2 separate regions of the Homo sapiens genome follow, and region 1 is reported to be linked to region 2. Evidence: microRNA targets listed by miRTarBase, many of them from high-throughput screens and not tested one by one. Region 2 holds a microRNA gene; the other region holds the end of a gene's coding sequence.
The links. The annotated mature microRNA hsa-miR-340-3p reads UCCGUCUCAGUUACUUUAUAGC and lies in region 2 at 1,103-1,124, shown strand. An mRNA with a match to its seed (bases 2 to 7 or 8) in the 3' UTR can be bound and repressed. Matches are read on the target gene's strand: a 7mer-m8 pairs with bases 2 to 8, a 7mer-A1 pairs with bases 2 to 7 and ends in A, and an 8mer does both.

Region 1: miRTarBase lists TOR1AIP2 as a target of hsa-miR-340-3p. The part of its 3' UTR that is shown has no 7-base or 8-base seed match.

The regions. Positions count from the first base shown.
Region 1 is chr1:179,843,329-179,846,328 of GRCh38, forward strand. TOR1AIP2 (torsin 1A interacting protein 2) reads right to left here. Exons shown (of 7, transcript NM_001199260.2): 7 at 1-3,000. The coding sequence ends at 2,743. Among named protein-coding and RNA genes, the nearest start is that of LINC02818, 8.2 kb to the left of the region's middle.
Region 2 is chr5:180,013,443-180,016,442 of GRCh38, reverse strand. It overlaps MIR340 (microRNA 340), which reads left to right and starts at 1,046; the gene lies at 1,046-1,140. The region is part of intron 2 of RNF130 (ring finger protein 130); the gene reads left to right.

The DNA.
Region 1 (3,000 bases), not on the chromosome of region 2:
AACCTCGTCTCTATTAAAAATACAATAATTAGCTGGGCATTGTGGTGCATGCCTGTAATCCCAGCTACTTGGGAGGCTGAGGCACAAGAATCACTTGAACCCAGGAGGTGTAGGTTACAGTGAGATGAGATTGTGCCACTGCACTGCATTCCAGCCTGGGTGACAGAGCAAGACCTTCTCTCAAAAAAAAAAAAAAAAAAAAAAGAAGTTTGGTTGGGTGCATTGGGTCACATCTGTAATCCAAACACTTTGGGACGCTGAGGTGGGAGGATCACTTGAGGCCAGGAGTTCAAGACCAGCCTAGGCAACACAGTAAGACCCTGTCTCTATACAAAATAGTGTGGTAGAGTGGTGTGGTAGTCTGCACTTGTAGTCCCGGCTACTCAGGAGGCTAAGGTGGGAGGATTGCTTGAGCCCAGGAGTTTAAAGCTACAGTGAGCTATGATCAAGCCACAGCACTGCAGCCTGGGAGTCAGAGTGAGACTCCATCTCAAAAAAAAAAAAAAAAAAAAAAGACTTTTGAAATAGCAGACAGAAAACTGACAACACCCTCAATTGATTGCACTATACATGGAAGGGAAAATGTTTTTAAAAAGGCTAAATTAAAAATTATGACTTTAGAAATTTATTTTTCTAAATTATTTTGAAGAGAAATGATGAAAAACCATATTCAACTGAATGAAGAAACAAGAATATGCGACATACTGGTTCCTTGACAGATCTGAGGTAGCACAGGTCAGCAGGCCAATATAATAGTTATACAAGGCAACACTGGTTTTGTGGATGTAACGCTAGCATCTAAGATCTAAAAAGACAGAAAAAATGTGCATATGGGATACAGATTTTCCTTCAACTTCCTCTGCTTTTATACTGGATTGACAGTGATATCACATTCACCATGCTTTAACTTTTTGTTCAGGTCTCTTCCCAAATCTCTTGGAAGCTTCCTTCGAAGTCCCAAATGCAAATTCTTCCTTCAGGTATGCCCCTACACTCAATTGAGCAATTACTCAATTGTAATCTTTTTAGGTATCAGTAAAGATCCCTGTATCTTCTTAGTGTTTCCTAAAATCTTTCCATACTTTAATCAGACTTCTTAGCTATATACATATGATCTCATATAATGGAGAGGCCAAAACCCAGTTGAAATAATCCAGGATTATGGTAATAGTCTATATAATGGAACAGACCCTTTGTTAGGTCGAGATCATTTTACTAGAGTTCTGCTTTCAGAGCTCAAATGCTAATCAACTCTATCTCCATACAAACTGTTTTCAATCTTTCTTACAATCACAGAACATGGTCCGTCAGTACTGAACATCAAAACCTCTGAGAATCTACCCACCATTTCTGCTTCCTCTCACTAAGTATAACATCTCTTAGATTTCTCTAATTTTTAACCTAATGGTACTTCTATAACTAGTTGGTCAAGAAATGAGCTGCATTACATAATGTTCCATCACTGCATAGAAATAAACTGGTAAAGTTATGCCAAATGTTCATATAAAATTTACTATTAAATTGGTTATTCAAAAATAAATTTTTAAAATAAAACAAATAAATTGGTTATTAAAATCTGTTCTGCTGAAAGAGTCTACAAACTCTTACCCTAGACAAGTATAAAATTCCATGCAGAGGGGACAGAAATGACGATTAACAGAAATGAACAAAAGCATCAGAGACATGCTAGTAAATGCTAGCTTATACATTCTGCTGTTCATGTATAGATCTTTATCCTTCATAAATAATGTATCTATACAATAAACCTGTATTTCATCTTCCTACTCATAAGATTTAATACATTCATTTTTTAAACATATTTCCTATCTTCTAAGATGTTTTTTCACTTAATCAATGGTTTTCAAACTCGAATATCAGTGAAACTCTTTGTTCCAATGAAATCTCATAGAGAACCCCAACATATAAAACAGTTAAAAGCAGAACTGCTCTGATACAAAGGGGAAGGGTGCCAGTAGACACAGTTTGAAAATCAATGCTGTAAATTGTTCAAGAAAAGCTGAAGTAAAGATATAGCCAATTGGAATTTCTTCATTTCCAATGATTATAAACAATTTCCCCACTGGTTCTCATTTTTAAGAACATTTGAGTACAGCTGCTTATACCTCAGCTGAATGAAATAAAAGCACAGTGCCTTACATGTAGTATTTAGGTAGGTACTTAATGGTTTGAATTCTTATTTCTTTTATCATACTACTCAAAACTGCAAAATTAATATAAGATATAATCCCGTAACTTTAGATTATTAAAGTAAGGTTTGAAAATATTCAACATGTGATAGAAAAATTTTCTAAAGGTTATCATTGCTTCATAATTCTAATTGCTTTAGTCCAAGTCCAAACATTATCGAAAAGGTTCTTCAGAGTCTCACTCAAGAAAAAAAAAAAATCACTCTGTAGTTACTCTAAGAAGTAAGAGTATCTTCCTGTGCAATGTTGCTATATTTTAGAATTTAAAAAAAATTCTCATATATATCATCGATATTTCAAACCTGATTTGGTCCAAAGAAAAAAAGTCAGGTTAATTTTTAGCTTTGTCAAGGCTTAGATTAGAAAGATTTTACAAGGAATAAAAAATAAAAACTTGTTTCTAAAATAAGCTCATCTTTGTTTTTCAGGCTATTTCCTCAAGCTATTTTATCAACCTCCTTCCATATAAATGGAAGGTCTTTAAACAAACTTTTTCATAAACATATACCTTCTGTAACCAACTCTGTGCTTAGCTTTAGAAAAGGCACCCCTGTTCTTCTATGCTACTCACTGGCTGGACTGGCAGTACCAGGTGTGAAATTCGGCTCCACAGCCCACTCAATTTGTCTGAGTCCATGTGGTTGAAGGAGGTGGGAGTGTCAGAGTTGGTAAACTTGGCCCAGAGTAAGTCTCTCACTTTTTCTTCCGTTTCCCTTGGGCCTACACTTGCTTCTAATGTTTCCTCCTCTAGCAGAACAGTCAGGACCAGGGCCACATCTTTAAAGGCAGCATT
Region 2 (3,000 bases):
TGATATTTACAGCGTTACAGTCTAATTATTCTTCACTCTTTTCAGTCACTGCCTCCTCTGACCGGCCCTTTATTGTGAAGCCTACATTTCCTTTGGCGTGAAACTGGGCCAGAGCTCCTCAGATCCTTAAAAGTCAAGTGTCTGAGGCAGCTTTAGGTCAGGGTCTTTGAGCCCTATCAGGCTTTAGGGGTGGAGTATGGGGAGAAGGCCCTTTCTCCTAGGAGGGGACTCCTATATAACTTTCGCCAGATTCTGTAAAAGATTTAAGACCTAAAACTCCAGTCCTTTGCAAGTTGGTGGCGGGCTTTCGTTCTGCTGTCCTCCTGCCCGATCGGCAGGGTCGGGCTCCTCTGCCCGGCTCTTCTCTGTGCTGGTGTAATGACGCCACCGCGAGCGGCTTCTCTTCCTAGTCCAAAAGGTTCCCCCTTTGCTCCTGAGGGCGTGTGGATTTTTGCATCAAGAGCAGGTAATTTTCTACTCTCTTTAAGAGGTGAAAGGAGCCTGATCATAGTATGTGCTCAATAAATATTGTTGAATGGATGGTTGAAATAATTACACACTTCTTTTCCCAAACAGCTTTCCCGTTGAAATTAGTTGGTGTTCTTATTTAGTGTTCTTTGAATAGAATCACATGGATTGGTTTCCTTGGCTACCTGTTCAGCTTTCCTTTCCCTACTCCTTTCCCTACTCCTTTCCTACTCCTTTTCCTACTCCTTTCCTACTCCTTTCCCTACTCCTTTCCCTACTCCTTTCCTACTCCTTTCCCTACTCCTTTCCTACTCCTTTCCTACTCCTTTCCCTACTCCTTTCCCTACTCCTTTCCCTACTCCTTTCCCTACTCCTTTCCCTACTCCTTTCCCTACTCCTTTCCCTACTCCTTCCCTACTCCTTCCCCTACTCCTTTCCTACTCCTTTCCCTACTCCTTTCCTACTCCTTTCCCTACTCCTTTCCTACTCCTTTCCCTACTCCTTTCCCTACTCCTTTCCCTACTCCTTTTCCAGCTTGAGTCTTCAAGAGGGAGCCTCAACTGATTTCTAAAACCGTTTGTACCTGGTGTGATTATAAAGCAATGAGACTGATTGTCATATGTCGTTTGTGGGATCCGTCTCAGTTACTTTATAGCCATACCTGGTATCTTATACCACAGATCATGGCCCGTTGAACAACATTTTAAGAGATTTCTAAAGGGAAATTTAAAGCGGTTTAGCATTATTTTGTGATTGTCTCTAATTTACTGATCACAACTCTTATTTCAGAAAGGTAATTAGATATTAATTAGATGTTTATTGCTTGCTTTAATTTTATAGTTTTTTGTAGATTTTTAATCGGTATTCTGGTAAACTGCTGTTCTAATAAAGTGGCTGTAACAATTTTGAGTAAGGTAGTAAAAAGGTATATGTTCCATTGGGTTACATTTTCCATAAAACTCCTTTTACTGTTGTATTTCTCTTCTTTTTTTTGAGGGTCTTGCTCTGTCACCCAGGCTGGCGTGCAGTGGCGTGATCTCAGCTCACTGCAGCCTCAACTTCCTGGACTCCAGTGATCCTCCCACCTCAGCCTCCTGAGTATCTGGGACCACAGACATGTGCCACCATGCCTAGCTAATGTTCCTGTTTTTGTGAGAGACAGGGTTTCACCATGTTGCCCAGGCTGGTCTTGGACTCCTGAGCTCAAGCAATCCACCTGCCCTGGCTTCCCAAAGTGCTGGGATTATAGGCATGAGCCACCACGCCCAGCCCTGTTGAATTTCTTTTCAGTTGCGTGTAGTCTTCTGTGACTGCATGTAACACAAAGATGGTTCTTTTAGCTAAATATGGTAAATGAAACATGTAAAACCAAATATTTCAATGTGTTATTCATTGAAGAAGGATTGAAAAGGACAAGTTTTGGGGACTTCTGCTTGATTGTTTTGTTGGTTTACATTGATATGTACAAACCTTATTCAAATTCAAATAAGTGGTTATAATTTTCTCTTTCCCAAAATAAAATATTTATTTCCCTTCTAATGACCCCTAGTCTCTCTCAGGGGCTCTCTGGAGAAGGCAAATGTAGAAGCTACATGTTGCCACCGGCAGCTTCAGCTTATGAAAGGACAATCGCTGATAGATTGATAGAAGTTTCTCTGTTTCCTTAAAAGACAGTGGGAAGTTATTTCCTTTGTGGAGGAGGAAAGGGATAGCAGTTTCCTGCTGTCCATAGGAAGAGGTATTCAATTCCTTCACTGTTACTACTTCTGGAAATTATGTAGGGGAAAGGTCTAGGTAACTATAAGGCAACTTAAGACTGTCCTCGTAATTAACTTGCATAGCCTGTGCTTGTGGGCAGACCTCTGGACAACTGTTAGAGGCTGGAGGTATTTCGATGCCAAACTGGTCCAGAATGTTGAAGCCTGGACCTGTCTCTGGAACGTTTGATTTCCAGAAGAGTTCTGGGGTAAACTAGCAAGGAGCCTCAACTCCACTCAAGTCTGGACATAAGACCCAAGTTAGTTTCAGATGTCACTAATAAAAGGTGGCACCATTTGGCACTTTGTAGCTCTGTTACCAGCTGTGTGTCCCCTGTCTCAGTGAGATTAGAAAGCTTGGTATCCTGTACTTGTTTTTGTTCCTGGCACTAGTTCTACAGACAGTGGGTACTCCATGAATGTTCCTAGATTAGTGCAAGAAGTACCAATTTATGCTATAAAAACAGCACTTTACTCCATTTCTTAAGGAATTAAGACTTTCTGAAGATCATTTTAAAATAGAAAAGGTTTTACAGTGTAAATCTACCATGATGTTGATACACTTCTCTTGCTGTATAATGTTATGTTGCTGTCTGTTGTCACATTTGGCTGGTTTAATAATCTTTTTTTAAAAATGTAGTTGTCAGACAAGTTAATATGGTTCTTAACACTGCAGTCGTTCTATGCCTTATGTCTGTTTAAGTCTTAAGTACCACACAACAAATTACATGTTCCTACTTGGTGCCAGCATACCCAGCTGCATCTACATTTCAGT